Regions from separate parts of the Homo sapiens genome. Here region 2 is linked to region 1. The links come from fine-mapping of genetic effects on gene expression. Tissue or cell type: whole blood. Region 1 holds a variant in brackets; the other region holds the start of a gene. All regions are shown on one strand. Distances are between the middles of the regions.

The links. PIP is the estimated chance that this variant, and not a neighbour inherited with it, causes the effect.
Region 2: it holds the start of TNIK, and the variant in region 1 is fine-mapped to the expression of TNIK in whole blood (INTERVAL, PIP above 0.99).

What each region holds. Positions count from the first base shown.
Region 1 is chr3:171,104,283-171,112,388 of GRCh38, reverse strand. It overlaps TNIK (TRAF2 and NCK interacting kinase), which reads left to right. Exons shown (of 33, transcript NM_015028.4): 19 at 1,512-1,675; 20 at 4,227-4,324; 21 at 5,183-5,206. MIR569 (microRNA 569) reads left to right here and starts at 5,630; the gene lies at 5,630-5,725. LOC105374216 (a long non-coding RNA gene) reads right to left here. Exons shown (of 5, transcript XR_007096163.1): 2 at 5,014-5,195; 3 at 4,473-4,551. The variant C/T (reference allele first, on the strand shown) is at 4,258.
Region 2 is chr3:171,455,487-171,463,592 of GRCh38, reverse strand. TNIK (TRAF2 and NCK interacting kinase) reads left to right here and starts at 3,188. Exons shown (of 33, transcript NM_015028.4): 1 at 3,188-3,586. The coding sequence starts at 3,530. It overlaps LOC124906303 (a long non-coding RNA gene), which reads left to right and starts at 5,422. Exons shown (of 2, transcript XR_007096168.1): 1 at 5,422-5,647. It overlaps LOC102724479 (a long non-coding RNA gene), which reads right to left and starts at 4,375. Exons shown (of 3, transcript NR_189068.1): 1 at 4,202-4,375. RefSeq lists an enhancer at 1,987-2,487 and a silencer at 3,499-3,558.

The sequences.
Region 1 (8,106 bases):
AGTTCATCCTGTACACATCCAGTAGCTGGTCAGGAACTCTACAGAGGAAGGCATGACTGTCATCTTCTGTTGACCCCTTCCTCTCAAGGTCTTGTAAGTGCTCTTTTTACTTCCTTGCACTGGGGACGGGACTATGCTTGTGTCTACCAATGGCAAGATTTTGTCCCCCCTAGCTTTACTGAGGTATGATTGACAAATAAAAAGTATATCTATTTACAGTGTATAACATGATGTTTTGATATATGTATACACTGTGAAATGATTACTAAAATCAAGTTAATCAATATATCCATCACCTCACATAGTTATCATTTTTTTCTGATGACATTTAAGATCTACTATCTTCGCAATTTTCAAGTATACCTCGTTATGATCTGTACTCACCATGGTGTACAGTAGATTTCCAAAAGTTACTCATGCTGTCCAAGTGAAACTGTAACCTTTGACCAACATCTTCCCATTCTCTCTCCTTCCTAGATCCCCTGGCAACTATCATTCTACTCTCTGTTTCTATGAGTTCGGTATTTGTAGATTCCACCTATAAGTGAGATCATGTAGTATTTGTCTTTTTGAGAGAGAGATATATCACATTTTCTTTATCCATTCATTCTTCAGTGGACACACACTTAGGTTGATTCCATATTGTGGCTACTGTGAATAGTGCTGCACTGAGCATGGGAGTACAGCTACCTCTTCAATGTACTGATTTCATTTCCTTTGGATATATATCCAGAAGTGGAATCTCTGGATCCTATGATAATTCTATTTTTAGTCTTTTGCGGAACCTTCATACTGTTTTCCGTACTGGCTGTACTATTTTACATTCTCACCAACAGGGTACAAGGGTTCCCTCTTCTCTGCATCCTCACCAACACTCATTATCTTTTGTCTTTTGAAAACAGCCATTCTAATAGGTATGAGGTCATATCTCATTGTGGTTTGGTGGGGTTTTTAAATTTATGTTTTTATTTTTTGAGACATGGTCTCACTCTGTTGCCCAGGCTGGAGTGCAGTGGCGTGATCATGGCTCACTGAAGCCTTGACCTCCTGGGGTCAAGTGACCCTCCCACCTCAGCCTCTCATGTAAGTGGGAGGACAGGCACATGCCACTATGCCCAGCTAATTTTTTTGTGGAGATGGGATCTCACTATGTTGCCCAGGCTGGTCTTGAACTCCTGGCCTCAAGTGATCCTCCCACCTGAGCCTTCCAAAGTGCTGGGGTTATAGGTGACAGCCACTGTGCCTGGCTCATTGTGGTTTTAATTTGCATTTCCCTGATGATTAGTGATGCTGATCATTTTTTTCATATTCCTATTGGCTATCTGCATGTCTCCTTTTAAGAAATGTCTATTCAGGTCCTTTCCCCATTTTTAATTGGGTTATTCGTTTTCTTGCTATTGAGCTGTTTTGAGTTCCTTACATATTTTGGGTATTAAACCTTATCAGATATGTGATCTGCAAAACTGGCAAGGTCTGGAGAGTGTAACCAGTGTGCTCTGTCACTCACACAGCAACCCTGATCTCCGGAGAACTGAGCCCATCTTGGAGAGCCCCTTGCAGAGGACCAGCAGTGGCAGTTCCTCCAGCTCCAGCACCCCTAGCTCCCAGCCCAGCTCCCAAGGAGGCTCCCAGCCTGGATCACAAGCAGGATCCAGTGAACGCACCAGAGTTCGAGGTAAAACTTTCTCTTACCTTTACCTGGCAATACTGCCTGGGAGGAAAGCTGTGGACAGGGAAAAAGGTTAGTTACTTCCTGACTCTAGTCCAGGCATGGCCACCACTGTGTGATCCTGAAGAGCCTGTCAACTGCTCTCAACCCCAGTCTCCTCGGGAGTGGGCCACTGTCCCTAATTGTGTGTGTGCCATCAGTATGGACAAAATCCTTTCTAATCTCAGATACCAGTGTTTTCCAGGGAGATCACCAAATATCAGTCTTATTTGAAAATACAGTCACTTACCAGTCACCTGAATTTCTGTTTCTGTTTGATTGCCGGTTTTTAGAGTTTCATGTACCCACAAATGTCCTGAACGCATTGCACCAATTGTCCTGTTTAGTATTCTGAACATAGTTCATATACACAGTTCAGAATACCATGTATTTCTCAAAATGAAATTCAGTAAAGACTAATGTAGAATACACTTGAAGGAAGGAATAAAATCTTTGACTTAAAAAGCATATTTAGGCCGAGTGTGGTGGCTCACGCCTGTAATCCCAGCACTTAGGGAGGCCAAGGCAGGCAGATCACCTAAGGTCGGGAGTTCCAAGATCAGCCTGACTAACATGGAGAAACCCCATCGCTACTAAAAATACAAAAAATTAGCCTGGCGTGGTGGTGCATGCCTGTAATCCCAGCTACTCGGGAGGCTGAGGCAGGAGAATCGCTTGAACCCAGGAGGCAGAGGTTGTGGTGAGCCAAGATCACGCCATTGTACTCCAGCCTTGGCAACAAGAATGAAACTCCATCAAAAAAAAAAAAAATTGTTGACTCCTCTGGTTATTCCTATTAAGTAAAAATTAGCCTCTCTAAATATTTAATTCAAATTATTCATCATTGTTTAGTTTCCAGTAATGGGGAGGCCTATGAAAAACATTATTATTTCCAGGTGCTGATACATAATAATACATTGTTTCTAGCTAGTTAAAATTCACTCCTTCTGAATCAACTTCTTCAGAAGATAATTTTGCTTCTAAGTGATGAAGACCAGTACTTTAATTGCAATTTGACAAATATTAACATACTTATAAGTTTCTCTGTCTGATGAAAGCCTCATGAGAACCTTCAGTTCTTTTTTCTTTCTTAGACTCTTTATTACATACCACCTCCTAATACCCTTAGTTTATCTCCTAACACCCTTTCAGGGTTTTAAATAAATCACTCTATTTCCATTTTAAAAAGCTTGATATCTAACATGTGATTGATGTTCACGTCTCTGGATTGGGATATGGACTAGCCAACAGCTGCCTCTATATGCATTCTTCTGATTAGTGGCACATCTCAGAAGTATCTACTGTATGTCTTTGTTGCCTTGATCGAAATATAAATTTCCTTAATTTAGAAAACTACCAGATGTAGTGGCTTACGCCTGTAGTCCTAGGTACCCGGAAGGCCGAGGTAGAAGAATTGCTTAAGCTCAGGAGTTCAAGGCTGCAGTGAGCTATGATGGCCCCACTGCGCTCCAGCCTAGGTGACAGAGCCCCATCTCTAAAACACCTAAAGAAAGAAAACAGCCATTCTGTTATCTTTTTTCTATTTATAGGCAACTTCATATTCTTAGAGCAAATATTTAAATAAACCAAACTTAAACGCATACCATTTTAATTCTCTGGTCTGGTTCAGGCTTACTTTTTATTTCCTTCAGCCCCTCGTTCTTCCGGATTAAAAGGGCTGTTGTATCCCTGGTATGTCCCTGTCCAAGAAAGACTACTTTTTAAGAAATAAAAACCACCTCTCCTACCCTAAATTGCATCTTCTCTATCTGTAAGCTCATAGACTGCAAAGATGCTATTCACTCTGCAGCTGTCAGGGTCCCCTTGACCTTGCTCTGTACCTCCAGCCTAGGGCCCTTCTCCTATAACAACCCCCTTCTTGCCCTCACCTCATTCTTTTATTTTTAAAGGGCTGAGACCACTCCCATCTCCAATTAAAAACCGTTCCACCAAATAAAATAAATTTTTTTTCCCTCACAAAATTTCAACAAAATAACCTATCCTGATTGGACAAATGATAAAAGAAGAAAACAAGCATAGAACCTTAGAGGCTCATTTAGCATAGTGACTGAGAATAGGACTTTCAGAAATCAGAACTCCAGCTCTGTCTATAATTTCAGTGTGACCTCCGGACAGTTGTGTCATCTTTGTAAATCTGTGTTCTGTAAAATAGGAGAATAGTGCCATATCATTGGGTTGGAGTGAGGATTAAATGAGATAATTGACATGGAAAGCATTTAGCACTATGCCTGACACATAAGAAGTGCTCTAGTGGTGATAGTACTTGCTACATTTCTTTTTTTTTTAATTGTTACTAGTGATTTCCAGGTCACAAGCCTAAATGTGTTTGCCTGAACATTATATTTTTCATGGATGTTTCTTGAGGATTTGCCCAGGTGAATGACGTGTCCACTGAGTAATCTCAATGTGATGACACATCACAGATAATTCATTCAGAACTTGAGCCAGCACTTTTTGATGGCCATCTCTTTCTTGGTCCTCTGTTTTTTTCCTCTAGCCAACAGTAAGTCAGAAGGATCACCTGTGCT[C/T]CCCCATGAGCCTGCGAAGGTGAAACCAGAAGAATCCAGGGACATTACCCGGCCCAGTCGACCAGCTGTGAGTGCTTTTCTCTCCAAGAGTTTTGAACTCTTAATTTACCAGAGAACCCACAGGATTAAGTAGTTGGGGATACACTCATGATGCAAACAAAAATTGTTGAGATTAGTAAGAACGGATGCTAGAAACATCCCGAAGAAAGTCATACCTGATTAGGAAAGAACCGAAGAGATCTTGGATTGACTCCTCTGCCTTTGGCTATTTGCTGATCATTAGCAGTCCTTTAACTATAAAACAGGAAGAGAAACAACTCCTATCATTCCATAATTTCTACTCAGCAACTTTGGCAAAAAGATGTTGAAAGTAGCAGTTAAAGAGACTTGGGTACTTTCTATGAACTTCTCTAATCTCTTCTACTCTTTCCCCATATTATTTTCCACATGAATTAATATTACAGTTTTTCTGCTATTTTTCATGCCTCCAGGACTATATTTTCTGGACCAAACTTTTTAAGCAGGGTCCAACAGGCGTCGTAACAACTTAGCATCCAGCTTCACTGCTGTAACATGATAGACCCCCAGGTAGCCTTAAAGAGGAGTATGGAGGCTAAAATTTGAAAGTTGAAAATTAATTTGGGATGAATTACTATCCATTTTTTCTATTTAAATCTCTTGAGAATCTTTTCTGTAAAATGAACGTGAAGCTTTTTGGTTTACTCTTTTTTAACATCTTAAAGTAACGACGTATACCGAGAGTAATAATGAAGGGATTTGCATCATTCTGGATTGACATTCTCTTCGCCCTTTTGTATTTATCAGTTGCGTACTAACAATTACAATTTTGTGTCTAATCTGCTGCCTTTCTGCTGGCTTTTCCTCCTTCTGTGGATTCTTCTGGATTGGGTTCCTCTCATTTCAGAGCTACAAAAAAGCTATAGATGAGGTTAGTATTACCTTTTCTTGGTCATGCTTTCACAAAATGTAAATATTAAACTTATTTCCTAATGTTGACATTCAGAAAGGTGGCCAATGGGAGCAATCAGCTGGGAGGAGATTTGTAGCAATCTGCTGGGAGGAGTGCCCCTTCAAATGGAAGCCAACTTTAAGACCCTCAAACCTACCCATATAGCTTCAGAGACCTTCCTTCTAAGCTAAAATGTCACTTTTCCAATGTTCCAGTCTGGCTAATGACAAGTATTCATGCTTTATTAATGGCAGTTTCTCCTTCCAGTATCTTCCAATAGCAAACCTGTACTTGCCAGCCTTGCTAGGGAATGGCTCTCAGCAGTTTTACTAACAAGAAAAGAGACATCATTCTAGGACACTCCAAATTTAGAGTGTGTGATTTGTGAACAAGGAGTTAGTAGGTATTGTTAGATTAATTTTGTGGGACATTAACAACAGCATCAGAAGCAACATCAGCTTTAGTTAATGAATCCTGGAAAGTTAAGTGACTTTATTTCCTTGTCTGTGGAGACGTTTTCCATTAGAAAAATATATGGCTTTGTCAGTTGTAGGTAGCTTGCTAAGAAGGATGACTGCCTTACTGCTATTTGTCAGACCTGCATGAATACAGCAGAGTAGAATTTGTTTTTTTAAGATCCAGGCCTTGCAAAGAGTCCTAAATGCATGGAATCTAAAGACTACCATCATGGCTTTAAAGCTGTAGCTCTGCTGAGCACTACTTTTGTGAAATTTAATGGAAAAAGCACTGGCTTTGAGGTCAGCAAGCTGCATTCAAATCTTGGCTCCCCCAGTAAATAACTGGCTGAGACTAGTCTCATAACCTCACTGGGCCAGAGTTTCCTCATCCATAAAATGAGAATAAAAACACCTCCCCATCCCACTTACAAGATTGTTTAGGATCATTTAAGGTAATGTGTGTGAAAGCATTTTATGTGTAACATTGCTGCAGAAAGCCAAGGGTTTGATTAAGGTTTGGGCCAGAGGCATGGAGCTATTTTGGCAGGTAGGAGAAGCATGTTTCCATGTATCTGGTCTTCACCGAAGAGCCTCACTTTTTCAGACTTATGGCCACCTCACCACCCAGAGTGACGAGACAGTTATGATCATAGTTGAAGGATTGTTGCTTATAAAAGAATGAGACTCCGCATGTTTGCGGTGTGTGGATGGCATTTATAGAAAGGGAAGAGGAGAGTGTGTTTTTAATTGCTCTGTGCCGTGGCCTTGCTTGCCCCTCTCTCTCATAATAGTGAGAAGGGCAGGGATTATCACAACTTTTGTCAGTTTTCTCCCAGAACAGGTAAAGAAAGACAGTGAAGTTCTGGTGCTACAGTTGCCAATAAAATGGCTGTGCATGTGCAGAACTCAAGAGGAATTACATGAGTTCAGAAATTGGCTTGGAGGGGCCGTCATTAAGGAAAAGGCTCTCACAGATTTCATCTGATTAACCCAGAATATTTTAGGCTTTGAAAAATTGCTCTACTTTTTTTTGGTGTACTGCACCACACTGGACAGAGATGAGAGGGGGCAATGGAGGTATACGTAATTACAAATAATTGAGGGGGTGTGAGCTGCATACTAAAATCTCTGGAGCCATGTATGGTTGGAAAAGCCCTCCAGGTGACTATCCTGATCTCTTGAGTATCACTGATCCAAACCACTAAAATAAAGCGGTTCTACCTAACCCAGTGGCTCTCAACCACGGCTGATTCCTCCACTCCTCTTCCCTTAGGAGACATTTGGCAAAATCTGGAGACAGTTTTGGTTGTCACCACTTCAGAGTAGCAGGCAGTGGTACTGGCATCTTGTGGATAGAGCAGAGGGGTGCTGCTGCCAAACATCCCGTGGTGCACAGAGAACTCCCTACAATAAAGAATTATCTGGCCCAAAATGTCAACAGGGCCATAATTGAGAAACTTTGAACTACACCTTTCTCCCTTCTCCATTCATAGGTTTTGGTAGGGCTTCCCTCTCAACGACTGTTTTTGCAATTTAGATAACTGGGATTGAAATGAAAAATCTGAAAATCACTTTTGAAATATTGTCGCTTGTTATTGCTAATGATTTAACTTTTTATAAAAATTAATTTGGGGGAGTGTACATTAATGTGACATTGCTTTCTAATGGAATATGAGATTTTGCAGCATAGTCTATTTAATATAGTCTTTGAATATAGTCTTTGAAAATAAATGGGTTTTCTCTGTTGGCACAATTAAATATGTGACACAAAGATTATACACGTAAGAAAACACTGTTTTTACCGCTGTTTTTTATTAGTATGTGGGCATCAAAAATTTCAAAGCACATCAATTTAGATTGGATGGAAGGTGAACAATAACTAGGGGTTCAACCCCCTTTTCCCTCAGATGAGGATATTGAAACTAAGTGGCTTGCCCAATGTCATATCTTTAGAGTTCCTAAAAAGAAAATAGTTTAATACAAAGAGAAAAAAAAGCTAAAAATTTTTAAACAATAGTTCAAAAATTGAACTAATATTTATTTGAATAAACTATATTGTTTCTAAAAAGGGACCTAAAAGAGCGCCTTTTTAGTCAAGATGTGCATAATAGTTAACCTTTGTTGAATGAAAAATTATATCTAGTTGATTCTAAAAACTGTTAAGCCTCGTAGCTATCTTCACATTTACTCTGTAGTCAAAAAATCTTACCATCTTGCCATATTTCTTTTTTAGCTATATATTCTCAAATATTTTCATGCTAAATAGCACTTATTTTGTTTTTTAAATACTTTTTAGCTCCAGGCTTGTGACAGCCAAGTAATAAATTACCAAGAAGGCTCATTATATGGAGAAAATTTGTATTGTCAAAGAATAAAATATATGAAAATAGAATTGAACCCAATGGTGTTAATATTAGATTG
Region 2 (8,106 bases), 350 kb before region 1:
TAATCCAGTTCATGAAGGATCTGCCCTCATGATCTAATCACCTCTTAAAGGTTCCACCTCTTAATACTATCACTATGGGGGTTAGGTTTCAACACATAAATTTTGGGAGACACAAACATTCAGATAGAACAAATGCTTAGAAAAATATCTGCAGCATAGTATTACTTATTATTCAAATTTTCTATTCATTTTTATAAAGAGGGTCTCCCTCTGTCGCCCAGGCTGGAGTGCAGTGGCTTATCTTGGCTTGCTGCAGCCTCAACCTCCCGGACTCAAGCAATTCTTCCACCTCAGCCACCCTAGTAGCTGGGATTGCAGGGGTGTACCACTATGCCCACCTAATTTTTGTATTTTTTGTAGAGATGGGGTTCTACCAAGTTGCCCAGGCGGGTCTCGAACTCCTGGACTCAAACTATCCTCCCAACCTGTCCTCCCAAAATGTTGGCATCACAGGTGTGAGCCACCACCGTGCCTGGCAGAAATCTTTAGCAAAAAAATTAGGTATCATTGTTGGAGTCTCCTTTTCCTCTTCCTCTTTTCTCATTATCCTGAAGTTAATCTGTATCCTTACTGCCTGTATCCATGCTTTATATAGTTTACTACATATTTATACATATGTAAACAGCATAGTGTATTATTCGGCAGGTTTTCAAACTGCACATAAATGGTGTCAGTTCTCTTAATCCTTCAGATTACATCAAGAAAAAAATCTCAAGTCTTGAATGTTTTTCCTGGTATTTGCTATTCTCTCTTTTAACAAACTAAGAGTAGGCCTTAGGCTAGAAGCCCAGAGCAGGAATTGATGGCTAGCTAGAATTTAATAATACTTCTTTATTTTCCATTATATTTATTTTAATGGTTTCCTCCCCCCTTTTTTTTTCAAAGCAAGTGTTGTTGGCTTTCCATTTAGAGTAGTGATTTATGTTTTCTTTTATATTAAGTGTAAGAAAAAAGTGTTGATTTAAAGAAAAATGTTAAGTAAGTGGTAAAATAGTACAGGCAATACAGAGACATAGGAAAAAATTAGGAAATTTATACTGGAATAGCTGAAATTTGATACACACTTGACCAAAAGGAAAAAGTTCAAGTTCCTCCTTCTCACCTTCCTTTACCAGTTGGAGGTCCCTTTGATACTGCAATCTCTCCTTTTATGGTATTTCCTGCAGCCCACACCCCTGCCTTCCCCTGGCTGTCTCATCAACTTCTCAGGCTCTTAGGAAGCCCTCCTCCATTTAGCACCTGGCATCATACTGCATCTATAACTTTCTCATCTAAAACTAAACTAAATCTGAATGCCAACTTGGCACCCTCGTGGCCCAAACAGCTCACTAATGTCAAAAAAGTTGATCTGTTTGTGATGTTTCAAATATAATCATGAGTATAAAACGAAGGCTTTCCATGGAAAAAATATTTAACTCATATTTCCTTATGTTTGCAGTTTTAAAAAAATAGTTGTTTATAGATCTTAATACTTGATCTTAAATTATCTTCTTTCAACCCTGAGACAATACATTAACCTGTTGTCTAGATGAACGGTAAAAAAACAGGAACACAGAAGAGAAAAAAACAAAGACAATGATGGGAAATAATCTGTTTTTTTTTTTTCATTTCGACGTGGTGGCTTACTGCACGTTACTTACTATGTCGAACCAGATGATTTTAGTAAAAAATGAGTTTAGTAATTTAGTATAACACGTTCAAATGTTTACATACAACGTTTACAGGCAAAAGCTACCAAACTGTTGTGGCCATTGAGATGTTGGAACAATTTTCAAGTTTCATGGTGCATGATCCACAATGCATATGAATACATACAATATCAGTAACAAAAACAGTACAATGTACACCAAAGGTTGTTTCAAAGTCCTCTAATGTCTGCAGTCATGATGAACTAACTGCACTGGCTTTCATTCATTCATTCATAAGACTTATTTTGAAGCTGATCTTCATACTGCATGATTAAGAAACCATCAGTGCAGTGGTCAGAATTACATTCTGCTGTTAACAGAGGAGCAAAGAATGCTTTCAAAGCTACTGCTGTATTTGGAAAAAAGTTCAGTTTTAGTGTTTTCTTTCTAGGTATTTTGCATGGCTAAGGCGGGAGAAGAAGGGCTGCGCGGGGATTGGGGGAAGCGACTTCCCACTCTTGATTACAGAAGGAGAATCATGTATACCACTGTAAAACATCCAACCTTTAAATGAGAAAGTGAGTGAAGTGAAATCGCTCTCACGTACACATCTTCCGCGTTACTTCTTATCCGCCAGCCAAACTTTCTCCATCAATCTGGGTAGGTCTGCCACGAAAACGCAGCCTGAAAGAAATGCTGAGTCCTGAGGCGGCGTGTGTTGCCTCACCCAGTGTTGGCTTTGGAGTTACCTGAAGCCTTCTAGCTACTGCACCCAGAGAGCAAGCTTCTCGTTTCAACTCGGTTGTTTCCGTGGGGAATTGCGGCACGAGCAAGTCCTGGGTGTGGCGATGCCAAGAGAGCGCTCAGATCTCCCATCTTTCCCGCTTCTGGCAAACCTTCCCAGCCCCGAATCGGCGAGTGACCAGCACCCGGGATCAGCCGTCCGGCATTCCGGGGACCGCGGGTGGACCCGACCCCGCCGCAGCTGCAAACTGCCGAAGCGCCCAGCTGGGTGCACTGTGCGTGTGCGCTTCTTCCCTACTCTTTCCGCGCCTGGAGGCGGATCCCCTTCCTTGCACACAAGTCCTTATATGCACCGGTTGCACCAGCCCGCGTTACTCCGGCCCCACAAATAATTAATGGGGGAGGGAGGGTGTCGCTTTTTTTTCCTCCGGCTTTTTCTCAGCGCGAGAGCATTTGAACCGAGGAGAAACCCCAAGACGCGACTGAAGGGCCATTTTGCTGCAGTGCACGAATTGGCCACACAAAAATAGAGCTTGGGTCCCTATGATAACAAGTCAAGGTTCAGGAACAGCCCCTTCGGGTTCGGCCCGAGGAGCCCGCAAAAGCCTGGGCGGAAAGGGTGCGCGCCCCTCCCCCCTCCACGCTGGTGCAGAGGGACCGGGTCAGGAAGCGCGGCCTCTCCCCAGTCCAAGACCACGCCTCCTCCGCCTCCCCACTCCCCCTTCACTCCTCCCAGGAAGCGGTGATAGACAGTTCTGCGTGGTTCTCCACCCCCACCCTCCCCCTGCTGAGTGGAGGAGTTGATGTGTCTCATTATAACAGCCAATGCAGCCGCCATCCACGCACAAGCAAAGAAGCATGTCCCATTTAAATACACCCACGCAGCCCCAGCGCCCTTAGCCGATCGGGGCGCTCAGCCCACACGCACCGCTGCTCGGGGCTTGGAGATCCGCGCAGGCTGGGCTCCCGGACCCGGCGGACCGACGCGCGGAGGATCGGGATCCGGCGCTGTGGGGCTGGGGTGGGCGGGGGAGGCTGGGCCCGGGGCCTCTGGCGCGACACCCGCATGAGGACGCGAGTGAAATAGACCAAGGTGGAATTTCCAAGGGAAAAGCTTCGGGGTGGTTTTGGTCCATTTCTCCAGCGAAGAAGTAGACATGGCGAGCGACTCCCCGGCTCGAAGCCTGGATGAAATAGATCTCTCGGCTCTGAGGGTGAGCAGGACGTTTTCTGGTTTCTTTCCAGTGGTTTGGGTTAGGGTGAATGGGCTCGGTGCGTGGACTGGGGGCTGGGGCTGGGGCAGGGGGACAGCAGCGGGAGAATGCGTCGGGGAGGGAACCTGGATTCCCGTTTTGATTCGGGGTTGCTGAGGTGCTCCTGGCTGAGCCCCTACGGCAGGGGCTGTGCGGTACGTGTCTTCCTCTGGCCGTGGCTTAGGCTCTCCCGAGGGCTCGTAGAGCTTATGCCAGTTTCATCTTATACCGGTGTAAGAGCATTAAAATGAAAGGCGTGTGTGCGTGTGTGTGTGTGTGTGTGTGTGTGTGTACACGCCCCGGGCAGTTGTCTGGTGCCAAGGCGCGAGACCCGACTGTCCCTTCTGCAAAAAGAATGCCAGCGTGAATAAAGGCACTGGCCCCTCACGTTTTCCAGCTACCTGCAAGATGACATTGTGAGGCTGGCTGTCCCCGCGAAGCCGAACCTGCCGCTCCAAGGGGGCAGTTATTGCTATGCTGGTCTTGTAGATGGCAACTGCCTCCCCCTCCCCCTTTTCTACCTCCCGCGCCCGGGCGCCCTCTCAGCGCTCCCTTAAATGCCAGTCTGCCACTCACCTTTATTTATGGCTTTAACTCAGCCCTGCCTGTTCTTTCTGACTTTGTGGCTGTAACGTTTCAGTTTTATGGCTGAACTTAAGCAGGTGAAAGGGATGTGTTTTCTGCTTTTCCTCAATCAGACCGGAACTCCCTGGAGTGTGTGCGAGTGTGTGTGTGTGTGTGTCTGTGTGTGTTTTCCCCGTGTCTGTGGCCAGTCCTTTGTAGAGCACCTCCCTCCCCCCAGCCCCACTGGTTTGCGTTTACCTTCACGTGAATTACCTCAGACGCCGTTTCATTGTATTGACTAAGACATCACTGATATAGAATCCATTTTGCTGTTGTTTTGAGATCAGAATACCAGGAATCCAAGTGCTGCTTCGACGCTTCCCCACCCCCAACTCCCGATCCCAACACACTCCTTTGGGGAAGGGGGCAGAGCTTTCTTGCCATTTTAATTAGATGCTGCCTGCCTGGAAGGGGGTGAGGGGTGGGGATGGTGGCAGCAGCGGGTGTCTGAGAAGGATTGGACACCAATTTAAGGACTGCTTCTTCCTCTCCCGAACCAAAAATAAAATTAAAAAGAAAGCGAGTGCATATACTTGATGTATGGAGGGTGGATGAGAAGGAATTCATGGTGGCTCTCTACAGGGAGACACCAGGATGGATGAAGCATGGAAGTTCACACGCCCTCCTGAGGAATACATTGTTAGATTGATGCTGAATCTTGGGGCCATTTACCTGGATTCCTAGTACTTCTGACATTGCCGCTATCTGCACTGATATATTAAAGTGCTACCTTTGTGATCAAAGTGGTACTTTCTCTTTGGTCTCCTTAATTAAACCTTTTCCTCCACATCTCTTTGAATAAGTCTTTCTCTCTTCGTCTTAATCTGTTGGGCTAAGAGATGAGGTTTCAGCAAGGCAAGTAAGGAGTTGAGAAGAAACAGAGATGCCGTTTGAAATGGGCTGTTCTGATAGTTGGGCAGCCAAAGCTCATTCATGCATTATTACAGGAAGCTGTCTATTTCCCTGGAGTGGAAATGCCACATCAAGAACCGGCTGCCCCCTGCGCAGCGGGGTGGGGTTGGTAACAGGGTGGGTGCATTGGCCAGGTCTGTGGCTTCCTGCTTTACCGACTGTGTGTGTTCATTTGCCCTACTTTCTACGCTGGGAGTTGCTGCCGGCGAGTTAATCAGGTGGATGGATGGCCCCGACTGGGGGTGGGGTGCTGCGAATCGGTCGGAGGTCGGGGTGGGGGGCGGGAAGTGGCAAAGGGGGAAGGGGTCTGAACAATGCGCAGGGCTTGCGGTGATTTCCCTGGGCCGGAATCTCGACCTTGCTCCTCTACTGGAAAGCAGTCTGATGTGATTTTAAGTTGGGCCGGGACTTGTCCCTTATGGGCTTTTTCCTCGGGAAGGTTTTCTGAGATACCAAGCACGGAGCCTGCAGGCAGGGGAGCAACCGGTGAGGGCCCACTGGGCGGACGACTGCGGTTCACACTTGGGATGTGCTTTCTTGTGATCTGTATTTTGAAAATATATCTTTGCACAATTCACTGAAATTGCTCTTTGTGGCCTGGGCTATCAGCTTAGGGCTCTGCTTCTGTTTTTCTGCCTGCTGGGAGGTGTGGAAACAGAGAGGGCAACAGCTAGCTTGGGGACCAGGAACTGCTGGCTAGAAGACTTAGATGCAGATGTGGAGACAGTTATATCCTGGAGGGCCAGGGTCTTTGACCAGTCTTGTGGGTGAGGTGTGTCTGCTGGAGTGGGTCCAAAGGCCACATAGGTAATCTCCACAAATCAGAGGGCAGATCATCTCCACCTTGCCACATTTGGAGAGGTGGCCTCATCTAGATGAGATGTCTCATTTGTTCCTAAGCCCTTGGTAAAGTCTGCCTGCTGAGCCCCTCCTGGGGAATGCCTGACCCCTGAAATGCAGCCAAGGTCAGTGGCTTCTGGGAGAATTTGCTGCAGACTTACCAGTCCCTCGCTGTTTCGGTGGCTCTTTAATGTACACAGTCAATGCTCTTTTTGTAAACCCTGGGCTCAAAGCATTAAAAGCAGATCCTGTCTAGAGAGGCCTTTATCCTTCTCACTTTGGGGGCTTATTGTTCTCAGCCAGTGATTCCAGACCGGACCCAGTCTAAATTTTCCCCAAATAGCAACAATGCATAATTTAAACCAGAGCAACCAATGACAGCACTGATCATTTAAATTATGCAAGATTTGCATGGTTTAAAAGTGAGTGAAGCAGGATCTTCTTTGGTTAGAAAATAGGTACTTTGAATCCAGTTTTAGCCCTGATTTTTAGAGCTCAGAGATAAACTAAATCTTGAGGGATGGGCTGGAATTGTTTTATAGATTCAGAGCTGGAAAGAGAATTGTAGAACACTCAGCCACTCCTTTCATTGAACACTTGGGAAACTGAAGCCCAGAGGCGTGAAGTAAGTTGTTCAAGGTCACACAGTAACAAGGGGAGGGGACAGCGAGGAGCGTGGTTTGAGGAAATAATCTAGATTTCCTGACTCCTCATTCAGTGCTCTTTTCTCTAAGTCACACTTTCTGTGGTGGAATCAGAAATCAATAATACATTTTCTGCCTGAGTACAAAAGAATAGCAGAAAGGAATAATTTCACCAGGGTCAGGGAATTTTATTTATTGAGAATGGCGAAACTACTTCATGCAAGTAAGCTTGTGATACATGAAACCATGGAGCTCTAGGCCACCTTTGGAATTCATCTTGTCCAGCCCTGGTTCAATGCCTACTCTGCAGGCAAACGACTGTCTGAAATCACCTAGGACACATGGTTGTCCTGCACAGGTAACCTCTCTGAGTAACCTGTGTCCATCAGAGCATGTCTCAAGGGGTCAGTATAAACATACATGTTATTCAGATGGCTCTGCATGTGAGGTTTATAGAGTTGTGTGTATGTTTTGTATTATCTATGTGGATACATATATTATGTGTAGTATTATGGATATAAACCGTATCCACGTGGGTGTATGAAAATGTGTGTATACATACATAGGCTACAGCAAACAATTTACTCATTCAAACCTGGGGCTTGAGTCATTCTTGCTTCAAGACATCTCAGTATTAAAAGAGATGAAAGTTGCCACCAGTGTGCTTTATTACATATGAGGCGAGCTCAGCCCAGAAAGCTTTTTGGAGATTAGCATATTTCTGGACCTAAGCACCTTGGCTGTCCTTAACTTGGCCCACAGGGTAAGGCATTCAAGGCCAGGAGTTGGCTGCTGCTGACCTCATACTCTCAGCTTCTGCCAGGACTCACATACACTTTTGTATTTGAACAAAATTAGATGATCTACACTTGTCTTTCCCCTTAGCCCTCATTCCCTAGCCATTCCTTTCTCCATTGAAACCCAGATTTAAGAATTGACCTCATCTGAAAGCCTTGCATACATCCCTTTGCTACACTTTTCATGCTCATGTTTTACTTGGTGTGTGATTTCCTTTCTGCTTCTTTACTAAACCGTGGACTTCTTGAGGGCAGAGGCTAGATCTTGTTCATCTTTGGAGCCATAGTCTCCATTAGTTGGATGAATGAGTACGTGAATGAATGCTTGAATGAATGGAGTGGAATGAACCCTGTCTCCCCAGTTCTATGTCCACCTCTTATTCACTCTGTGACTTTGGGTAGGACATTTAACCATAGTTAATAAGAATCATCACAACTGTTTGCCTTTCTCACATACTGGTTTCAAAATCAATAAAGTATTTAAGGCAATGCTTTAAAAACCATACAGCACTGTACAAATATGCTATCCCATGGTTAAGTAGAATTTAGTGGGAAAATTGATACCATCAACATTTGATTGCAATGATTTTATCTAATAGAAAATTATCTTTCCTGGGCACAGTGGCTCACACCTGTAATCCCAGCACTTCGGGAGGCCGAAGTG